Homo sapiens: one gene and its partners. The protein of the gene in region 1 interacts with the protein of each later gene in a biochemical or structural test. Each region holds a gene or a part of one and is shown in the gene's direction. Other genes may lie near its edges. The genes, in order: FRMPD4, SLC15A5 and MAST3.

The links.
Region 2: the proteins of FRMPD4 (region 1) and SLC15A5 interact in a test that uses a peptide from one of them, tested with the Homo sapiens proteins (one large-scale study listed by IntAct).
Region 3: the proteins of FRMPD4 (region 1) and MAST3 interact in a test that uses a peptide from one of them, tested with the Homo sapiens proteins (one large-scale study listed by IntAct).

The regions. Positions count from the first base shown.
Region 1 is NC_000023.11:12,718,820-12,722,472, forward strand, and holds part of FRMPD4 (FERM and PDZ domain-containing protein 4), read left to right. Parts: intron 1-1,709; coding exon of another isoform or gene 1,710-1,714; coding exon 1,715-3,039; 3' UTR 3,040-3,653. UniProt on the Homo sapiens protein: Positive regulator of dendritic spine morphogenesis and density. Required for the maintenance of excitatory synaptic transmission. Binds phosphatidylinositol 4,5-bisphosphate.
Region 2 is NC_000012.12:16,275,577-16,279,329, reverse strand, and holds the start of SLC15A5 (solute carrier family 15 member 5), read left to right. Parts: upstream 1-1,644; coding exon 1,645-2,005; intron 2,006-2,804; exon of another isoform or gene 2,805-3,137; intron 3,138-3,478; exon of another isoform or gene 3,479-3,753. UniProt on the Homo sapiens protein: Proton oligopeptide cotransporter.
Region 3 is NC_000019.10:18,100,692-18,104,344, forward strand, and holds part of MAST3 (microtubule-associated serine/threonine-protein kinase 3), read left to right. Parts: intron 1-3,653.

The DNA.
Region 1 (3,653 bases):
ATGACATGCCAAGAGCATGTAAACCATATTTACAACAAACTTAAAAACGTAATGTCTGGAAGAAAAGTAAAAGGTAGAATTTTAAAAGGCCACAGAACTGTAAAGTACCAATCATTGATCCCCTGGTATTTAATAAATACTAAAGATTATAAAGGTGAAAATGGCATTTGCTCTTTATAATCTTACTCTGTGCTTGCTTTCAGAATTGGATGGGGCAATATGTTTTTCCTAAATTCTAAATGCAGATGTTTAGCAATGCCCAGTGTGACTTTTAGTTATATGATAGTATTGCTTAGAGTCACATAACAGTTTGATTTTCTTCCCAAGACATCTGAGTTCTAATTCTGCCATTTCATTATTGAGGGACAAGGAAGGATAAGAGAGCAGGGTATCAGGGAGATTGGAGGGGTTTGGAGAGATCATTTGCCTTTCGGCAATCTTACTGATTCCTCCCTACTCTGTAAGACTGCTCTATATGGATGTTCTGAAGTGTCTTGCATACCCCAGTGTCAGGAAGATTTTGAGGCTATTCCTGATGAGCTGCTTTATTTTCCCCAAAATAATAAAGTGTAAACACACGTAGAAAAAAGAACACATCCACCTTCTGTATCCCACCTTCACCACTCCACCACTCAATGGCAGGCATTCCCCTCACCGATCCACTTGGCTGGCCATCACATGGCAAAAGCAGATACTCTTTCATACTTTTATGTTTCAAATTATGTCATCAATAGTGTCTTTTCCATACAGGTCAATGGAAGTTAGTGACATCTTATATTGGTCATTTTCTATTCCTGTTCTTTTAAGATTTTCTACTTTCTCAAAACCCACCACTGGCTTTACCTCCTTTGGAAAAGCTGTCTGTGAATATCACCTAACTCATCACCCAACTGCATCTTTACCTCTAAACTAAGTCACACTGTTTAATCCTTCATGATTTATAAAGAACTTTCACCTGAGTTACCTCTTGCTTCTCACAAAAATTCTGTGAGATGGGGATTATTTGCTTCACATGACAGCTTTTCTTAAAGAAAAAAAAAAATGTTGAACAACTGGCCCAGTGTTTCAACTTCAGACTTTTACCAGGCAAACCTCATGCTGACTTCTTAAAAAGATTCACTTATTTAATTTGCACTAATTAAATTAGGCCACTTCTTTAAAAGAAAGAAAGGAAAGAAAGGAAAGGAAAGGAAAGGAAAGGAAAGGAAAGGAAAGGAAAGGAAAGGAAAGGAAAGAAAGAAAGAAAGAAAGAAAGAAAGAAAGAGAAAGAAAGAAAGGAGGAAGAAAGAAAGAAAAGAAAAGAAAAGTAACAATGCCAGATTTAACCTAATTCCCTTGAAATGAAACTTAATATCTCCAATATATTTGAATAATCTATACACAGTTGTTTTCTGTGTCTAAGCTTTGATGGGTAGATATTGGGAGTAAGGCAATTCATGAAATCCCTGAAAATGTTTGGGATTTCTAGACAATTCCAAATGAATCAGCAGTTCCAGAAATAACAGATTCCAGTATTTTCTTGATATTCATTAAAATGGAAATTTGTTATGAGATATCAAGAGGCAGTCTTTGGAAAGCAGGGTGACCTTAGCATCGGCAGCCCTTCCAGACTACAACCTTGAGAAATGACAGACATCATGTAGAGATGTAGTAAAAATGACCTCCCAGGAGATGCTTAATGATTCTCTCTGTTTTTCTACTACCCCTAGTGTAGCTTTGACAGAGCCTGGGAAGGAGAGACGAGGAGGCATGCCTTCAGCTTGGTCTCAACATCCTGAAGCTGATCCCATCCTGCTACCATCAAACATTCACTCGGAATCAAAGGTGCCAATTCCAAATCAAGACCCTAATGATTTCTCCCAAGCAAATCAGGCATACGGAGAGGCTGTGAGCTGGCGGCCACCGGATCTGAGAGGGGGGAGCCTCAGGACACCTCCCAGCCAGAAGGCTCTGAGACATAGCAGCAGTATCCTCTCCGGATCTGTCGATTTGGAGACCTTCCGAGAGAGAACCAAGGGTGCAGTCAGCTTAAAGTGTCCAGGCATCACAGAAGCACAGGAGGCCAGTTCTGAAAGGCGAGCAGAACTCCCCCTGGGGAGGAAGCTCACCAAAAGTTTTTCCCAAAGCTCAATGCACTTGAGCTCTGAGGGGAGGTTTCACAAAAGGTCCCCAGTGGCTCATAAAGACTCAAAGCTGTATAGGACATTACCCTTGCGGAAGCTGGAGGGCAGCAATTGGAGATGCCGGGGACCCTTCAGCTATTGCTTCCTGAACCGAGGGCAGGATGAAGATGGTGAGGAAGAAGAGGAGAGGGGAGAGGCCACCGTCCAGGTCTCTTGCCTCTATAGACCACAGATGACTCAAGCCATGCCAGAACCAAGCAGCCCATGCCTGGCTGTGGCGATTCAGAAGCAACGAGGGGAGCTATCCAGAGGGTCAGTGCTGAAGGTCTGGGCAGAAGACCTGCGAGACCCAGATGACTTGGACTTCAGCAACCTGGCTTTTGATGCCCGGATTGCAAGAATAAATGCCCTAAAGGAGAGCACATATGCAATGCCTGATGGGTTCCTTGCAGCCCAAAATGATGCCAATGAGCTGCTCTGTCTCGTCAGGGCAACCAAGGAGAAGAGGGAGGAGTCACGCCCTGAAGCGTACGACCTTACACTTTCTCAGTACAAGCAACTGTTATCCATTGAGTCCAGACAGTTGGGAAGTGCCTGTAGGAAAATGGCGATGGCTGAGAAAAGCCCGGAGGAGATGCTCCTAGCTATGACTTCCAGCTTTCAAGTGCTCTGTTGCCTAACAGAAGCTTGCATGCGATTAGTTAAAGTCGTGAACTCAGAAACACAGCGGCAGGAAATTGTAGGGAAGATCGATGAAGTGGTCATAAATTACATTTGTCTACTGAAAGCTGCCGAAGCAGCCACTGGAAAGAACCCTGGGGACCCTAATGTTGGACTCTCGGCGCGACACTCAACCACCATGGCCGCTCTCGTAAGCACACTGACACGTTCTCTCAAGAGGCTTTTAAACAAATAAATATGGAAGTCACGTCATAATCTACCTTTGCAAAGCCATACATGAACTTTTATTTACTTTGTGTGTATGATGAACAGATGTCTCCTTTCTTCTCTCTGTATATTTTGTTATTTTATATAAAATAGGAGATAAAAGTCACATTGATGAAATGTTGAAATGTACTAATCAGATGTATTCTGTTTATATTATACATATATATACACGTAAAAGAAATATCCAAGAAAGTGATGACATTTGGCTATTTTTCATATAGTTAAAACTCCAGGTATATGATGTGAAATTTTAAATTCTACCATGTTAGAGCAAAACAATGAATCCTATCCCCTTTCTTTCCAAGTAGCTACTTGGAAACCATATCATTCATATTTAGAAGTAAAACACAAAACAAAAAAGAGAGAGAAAAGAAAAGAAATCACAATGTATATAAAACAGTACTTATGTTTTAAAATTATGATTTTTAAGCATTGGAAATAGCAAAAAGACATTTAAAATTCAAGAAGCTATTATGAATTACTAGAGAATATATCTGTAATAAATTAATTTTTTGCTCATAGTATTTGGTTACTGGATGCTTTCTTCCAAGAATCCCACATATTTAATTTGGGTTTTTGCTA
Region 2 (3,753 bases), on another chromosome or scaffold:
CTTCCGTCATGATTGTGAGGCCACCCCAGCCAGGTGAAACTGTAGGTCCATTAAACCTCTTTCCTTTATAATTATCCAGTCTCGGATATGTCTTTATTAGCAGCATGAAAACAGACTAATACACTGCCATCTGAATAACTCAGCTGCCACCATGCCCATTCTTAAGTCATTCCACTCAAGATTAAAATTCCACAGGAGAAAAGTAAAAGGACTATCTTAGACCGGGTGTTGACCCACTTGGTTAGAAGAAAAGGCATATGCTGATCAACAGCCCCACCATGATCTCAGGTAATAGATAGGAGTCATTCTCCAAAGGTAGGGTGAACACATGTTAGAGTGTTGCCCTGGACAGTCCCAGTTTATAACTGTTTTTTTTTTTTGGGGAGTAACCATAAATAGCATCACTTTTCACCTGCACAAAACTGTCCAAGTTTGGATCATAAATTGCATGATCAATTTACACAAAGGAAATTTAGGGCATCGTTACCAAAGTAGCAATGCTGAGCAGAGACAAATAGCTACCATTACAATGAGGCTATTAGAAGGGGTCAAAACAGAGTATTTTGCCCCCAGTCTCTCACAACCAAAAGATGATAACCAGAGTCAAAAGTCCCTATTGGTCTTTAGGTTTTGACTACAGCATGAAAATAACATTCCTATACTCAAGTGTTGAATTATTATGACTTTGACCCAATAGTTCCGGTCCCTTTTCTTCCTATGTCCTTGCAGCTAAGCCACTAAATGTTAAGGTGTTCTCTTTCACTGCTGCTTTTTTAGCTTAATTGGCCCTCCTGCTTTCCAAAATAGAATGCTAACACCCATTCACCCAGCTGAAGGGTCAGGGTGATACCAGATCCAATATTCCCCAAAGCCTGTGTAGGCTGGTTGCTGTATCCCTGACTACTGATTAATAATAAAGGAGTTAAATAGCACCTTTTGATTCTGATTTCCTCTGAGAGGCTGTTCTACAAGCATGGGGTCAACTAAAAGGAAGCAGGGTTTCGTTTAATATTTTCTCCTTTCATTAGTGCACTTAAATTACTTTCTTGTAAACTCTGCTTGTTACCTAAATGTACTAGCACTTTTGTTACCTAATTAAGTTTCTTATCAGAATTCCAACCAAAAATAACAAGAAATGTAATAATGATAAGATATCGTGCCCTTCAAAACAGATTTCCTTTTGCGCTTTATCTCTTGGTACTGTTCTGGCTTGTTTAATTAAAGTATCAGAAATTATTAGACTCAAATTATTTCTTGATCTAGTGCTCAAATTCTCCCGAAAACCTGCTTCTTCTGCCTCAATATTTAAACCTTTATCAGTATGAGGCAGATGAGTTTCCACATGTTTGCAACTGGATTCATGTAATTCAATACAATTTTGGAGGACGATCCTAATTTAGCCGCTAAGTAATTAAGCAAACAAATCAGATTTGGGTACACTGAGCTACTGTGAACATTTAAATACTCATGCTCTTGGATCATCAAAAGGAACAACGTCCATGTGCAAAAAACAAACCTTATGAAATTCTAGCATGGAGATGTGAAATTCAAAGCAACGTTCTTATTTTTTTCATCAGAGGGATGGGGCTCAAAATATCACCAAGTTCAAACCACTAACATAAGTTTTGTTCAAGGAGGGTAGTCATGTCTGTTACAGGCTTTACCATAACTGATGAGAAAGTACACTTATATCACAGCATTGAGAAGGAGAAAACTGTAAGACATATTGGCGATTTGTGTTCCTCACACTCTGTGAAAAAAATTCAGGTTGGAATCTGCTTGCTTCTGGTGGAGCTGTGTGAGAGGTTCACGTTCTTTGAAGTCGTCTGCAACATGATCCCCTTTTGCACTATCAAGCTTGGCTATCACAATTGCCAAGCAGCCATCTTAAACTTGTGTTTTATTGGAACTTCAATACTTACCCCTGTGTTTGTCAGATGGCTCACTGATGTCTATTTAGGAAGAAACAAACTGGTGTACATTTGCTTGTTTCTACATTTTCTAGGTGAGTGTCCTCTGCTGACTGGATTGTTTTGTGACTTAATTAAGTAGATTTTTGTTAGAATTTTTAGTTTATATTATTTTCACTCTGCTCTTAGCATAAAATGTGATAAATGAAGTAAGAATGTGGGTTCAATGTATTTCATTCTTTGTACTATTTGAAGAATGCTAGTAAGTCTGTGTGTGTGTGTGTGTGTGTTAGAGAATGTTTTGTGCCTATATCATTGCATTTATATTTTATAATAATTACTCCTTTACATATCTATCTTACTCCTTAGAATGCCCTCCTTTCCCAAAACCTTTTTACCTCAAGCCTAAATTCATGACAAATTCCCTCAGAAATGTGAAATGTATTTGCTTCACAACTAAGATGAAATGTGCTAAAAAAGGTTTTTGAAGTTCATGTAAAATAATTGAGAAATGTTTTTATCCAAAGGTGGTCTTTTAATTAGTCATATAGTAATTAAGATTGCATATGATGGCATGATTTCTATATTTTTAACTATGATTATATGCTTTAGAAATGAGTAAATTAGACACTATAGTGTGCATCTTTACATATATACTAATATATATCTGCAAAAGTTTGGGACCGATTGTGAGAAATGCTGGGAAAATATCAAGATAGTTTAATAAGAAATAGAGAGCAACTTGAAGAACAGACTAGAATTTTAAACTGAAAAGTTCAAGTTATTCTTCTTAAGCAACAAGAAGTCTCTGAAAATATCATGAAAACAACATTTGAGAAATGCTATTCTGCAATACAGGATGGACAACCACAGTGAGGAATTAAATAGAGAGAGATCAGAAAATCTCAGGATGATGGTTTAAGCAATAAAGTGCCAATTCAGGAGAGAACAAGTGAAAAGCTGTAAGGCAACTAAATAAAGGTACAAATGTGATGGGGGTCAAAAATTAGCTCCAAGTTTCTGATCTGAGCAACTTGGGAATATAGCATGCTGTTCACCAATAATGAGAAGTGCAGCTGAAATGAGTATTGGTAGGGGGACAGATGAGAAAGAGATGGATAGATATCAGGTACTCAACATATCACACAATCTCAGGCAGGTGGTAAATTACCATTCAGAGAATCCATTGGAGTTTAAGTCAAACCTGGAAACTTCACAGCTTTAGTTCTGTGGAATAAAAACTAGGTCACTGCATGGCAAATAATCACTCAACATTCAACAAATATTTCTTATTGACTACTCTGTACCAGACATTATTCTGGGTCTGGAAATGCAATAGAGAAGAAAGTCGTCTGTTCCTGCTAAAGTTGACTTTTTGGTGCAGGGAGAGAGAAAATAAAAGAGGAAATAGATATGATGTCATGTGGCAATGAGTTAGGATGGAAAAATAAAGCTGGGTAGGGGGACAGGATGGAATGGATGGTGATGAGGCTGCTACTTGGTACCGAGAAAAAGTTTTCTGATAAGAAGACATTTAAGCAAATCCCAGACTAACTTACTCTGCTTACCTTGGTAACAGGCCACACCAGTAGCATTTGTTGACTTCTTGTTTAACATGGTAATTTCTATCAGTCTAAATTCTGAGGTCAGTCATCAGACAGGATGGAAATCCCAACTTTGGAATCTGGCAAACAAAAGACTTAAGTCAACTCTACATCCATTCATTTTTTTACTAAAAGTTATTTCTTTGTTGCCCTCCACTTACAGCTGCCATCAAATTCCAACTGTCACTAAATTTCAGAGGTTATATATAAGAAAGGTCTTCTGTCTGAATTGCTACTAC
Region 3 (3,653 bases), on another chromosome or scaffold:
GCCAGAGAAATTCTAACCAATCTGGCACGTGAAGGTGTTGTCTTCATCAGCCCCAGTTTGGGGTCTCTTTTGACTGGAAACCTTGTTAATGGTCCAGGAGCACCCCAGCCAATCAGGGGGTAGATCGCTGATGCGAGCCAATCAGATTTCCTGGAGGCCAAAGGCCAAAGAGTCCATTCACAAACGGGTGCTGACCGGCCAATCCAGACGCATAGCCCAGGGCGTCCTCTCCGGTGGTGACAATGTGAGGCGTGCTGTTGGCTGTGTGCAGGAAAGGTCTGAAAAAGGATCCGGCCTGGCCCGCGGGCGGCCAGTTTGCGACAGCCCTGGGTCCAGGGAGGAGGTGGAGACCTTCCCAATTTGGGTTAAACTCAGCCTCACGCATAACGTGTGCAGGCACCGGGTAACGTGAGCTGTTATTACTACTACTACTATTATCTTATTACATTTATCATCTCCTACTTGGACCTTTGCTTTACACATGACCGAATTTCAAAACACCAGGTCCCACAAACAGAGCATCCCCCGGCAGAGAAGGGCTAGAGCCTGTATCTGGACTTTTGTCTCTGCCGCTACTGGGGTGGCTCCTCTAGGTTCAGCCCTCCAAGGTGATCCTGCTTTCTCATGGACAGCTTCCACTTATTTTCCTCCTCCTCCTCCTCCTCCTCCTTCTCCTTCTCCTCCTCCTCCTCCTCCTCCTGGAAGCCCTGGGGCTGGTGCCATGTGGTCCATGCTGACTTCTCTCCCATTTAATTCCAGGGGCATCGAACTTCCAACCGGGCTTGGTGCCCAGCAGGCTGAGTCTCACCTCCCTTTGCACGTGCTGTTTGCTGGGCATGGACTGGTGTTTTCCATGTGCCTGCAGGCTTTGTTTGACACCCCCTACTCCAGGAAGCCCCTTAGCTCTCCTCTCTGTGTGCCTCCAACCCCTCTTCTCCCTTTGAGTCTCTCTTTTTTTAGACAGGATCTTGCCCTGTCGCCCAGGCTGGAGTGCGGTGGCCCAGGCTGGAGTGCAGTGGCGCCATCTTGGCTCACTGCAGGCTCCGTCACCTGGATACAAGCGATTCTCACAGCCTCAGCCTCCTGAGTAGCTGGATTACAGGCGAGCGCCACCACACCCGACTAATATAATTTTTATATTTTTTAGTAGAGATGGTGTTTCACCATGTTGGCCAGAATGGCCTCAAACTCTTTTTTTTTTTTTTTTTTTTTTTGAGACGGAGTCTTGCTCTGTCGCCCAGGCTGGAGTGCAGTGGCGTGATCTCCGCTCATTCCACCTCCCAGGTTCATGCCATTCTCCTGCCTCAGCCTCCCGAGTAGCTGGGACTACAGGCTCCTGCCACCACACCCGGCTAATTTTTTGTATTTTTAGCAGAGACGGGCTTTCACCGTGTTAGCCAGGATGGTCTCCATCTGCTGACTTCGTGATCCTCCCACCTCGGCCTCTCAAAGTGCTGAGATTACAGGTGTTAGCCACTGCGCCTGGCCTTTTTTTTTTGAAACGGAGTTTCACTCTTTCGCTCTTCTTGCCCAGGCTGGAGTGCAATGGCACGATCTCGGCTCACCGCAACCTCTGCCCCCGAGTTCAAGCGATTCTCCTGCCTCAGCCTCCCAGGTAGCTGGGATTACAGGCATGCGCCACCACATCCTGCTAATTTTGTATTTTTAGTAGAGACGGGGTTTCTCCATGTTGGTCAGGCTGGTCTCGAACTCCTGACCTCAGGTGATCTGCCTGCCTCAGCCTCCCAAAGTCCTGGGATTACAGGCATGAGCCACTGCGCCCGGCCACCTTTTTTTTTTTTTTTTTTGAGACGGAGTCTCATTCTGTCACCCAGGCTGGAGTACAATGGTGTGGTCTTGGCTCACTGCAACCTCCGCCTCCGGGGTTCAAGGGATTCTCCTGCCTCGGCCTACCGAGTAGCTGGGACTACAGGCGCCTGCCACCACATCCAGCTAATTTTTGTATTTTAAGTAGAGACGGGGTTTCACTATGTTGGCCAGGCTGATCTTGAACTCCTGACCTTGTGATCCGCCCACCTTGGCCTCCCAGCGTGCTGGGATTACAGGCGTGAGCCACCGCACCTGGCTCAAACTCTTGATCTTAAGTGATCCTCCCGCCTCAGCCTCCCAAAGTGCTGGGATTACAGGCATGAGCCACAGCACCCAGCTGCTTCGGGTCTCTCTTAATCCCTCCAGTATGGGGGTGCTCCTGCTGTGCTATGTCTTCTCCAAAATGGGATTTCCTCAAGGTGGGGCTAAAGCTTGTTGGGGAGGCAGCATCCCCCAGCCTGGGCAAGCGCAGACGGGTATACCATAAATATTACCTTTAAAGGGCAGTTTCAGGGGGTCGGGGCCTCCCCAACCTCCACTCCTCTGGGTGGGAACCACTCCCAGGGGAACAGCAGGCACAGAGGGAGCTGTGGGTGGAAAGCAGATGGTGCGGGGACCGAAGGGTCCGGGAGTGGTGCCAGGAGAGTTCTGTGTGGTCCAGCTTCCCCGGGAGCCTTTGCAGGGAGCTGCCGATTTTGCCTCACCTCTCTCTGCCACTTTAAAAAAACATCTTCAGGCCAGGCACAGTGGCTCATGCCTGTAATCCAGCGTTTTGGGAGGCCGAGATGGGAGGACTGCTTGAGGTCAGGAGGTCAAGACCAGCCAGACCAACATGGTGAAATCCTATCTCTACTAAAAATACAAAATCAGCCAAGCGTGGTGGTGGGCGCCTGTAATCCCAGCTTACTTGGGAGGCTGAGGCAGAAGAATCGCTTGAACCCAGGAGGTGGAGGTTGCAGTGAGACAAGATCGCACCATTGCCCTCCAGCCTGGGCGACAGAGCAAGTCTCCATCTGAAAACAAACAAACAAACAAAATATTCACATCTTTTTGTCTTTTGGAAGCAACTTTCAACTGGTGGTTATTATTCACGTCTTGATCATTGTCTTGACTCCCATCCATCCAAGTCTCCCCCAGCACCAGGCTCTGAGCTTGCTACTCATTGATTCCTCCAGGGACCCTATGTCACTGGGCCATTTTCCAAATGAGAAAACTGAGGCACAGAGGGGTTAAGTCACTTGTCGGGTCACACAGTGCAGGAGTGGGGGAGCCAGACTGGGAACCTAGGACTGTCAGAGTTTTGGAAGGAAATGCCTGGATGGGGTGCAAGTGGGACCCCCCACCAGGGTTCAAATCCCTCCCTGTTTCACGTGGGGTAGTGGAGGAAGTGGTATAAGATCCCACAACTGGCTGGGTGCAGTGGCTCATGCCTGTAATCCCAGCACTTTGGGAGGCCAAGGCAGGTGGATCACTTGAGACCAGGAGTTCAAGACCAGCCTGGGCAACATGGTGAAACCTCATCTCTATAAAAAATACAAAAATTAGCCGGGTGTGGTGGCACATGCCCACAATCCCAGCTACTCTGGAGGCGGAGGTTGCAGTGAGCCAAGATTGCACCACTGCATTCCAGTCTGGGCGACATAGCCAGACGCTGTCTCAAAAAAAAAAAAAAAAAAAAAAAAAAAAAAAAAAAAAAAATTCCCACAACTATTGGAAGGGGAAGAAGGAGACCCTAATGGCCACGGTGATGGTGGTGATGGTTCCATCACCATGACTGCTTGAACTAAACGCCGTGAGTTGTCTGTCCTCAGACATATTCAAGC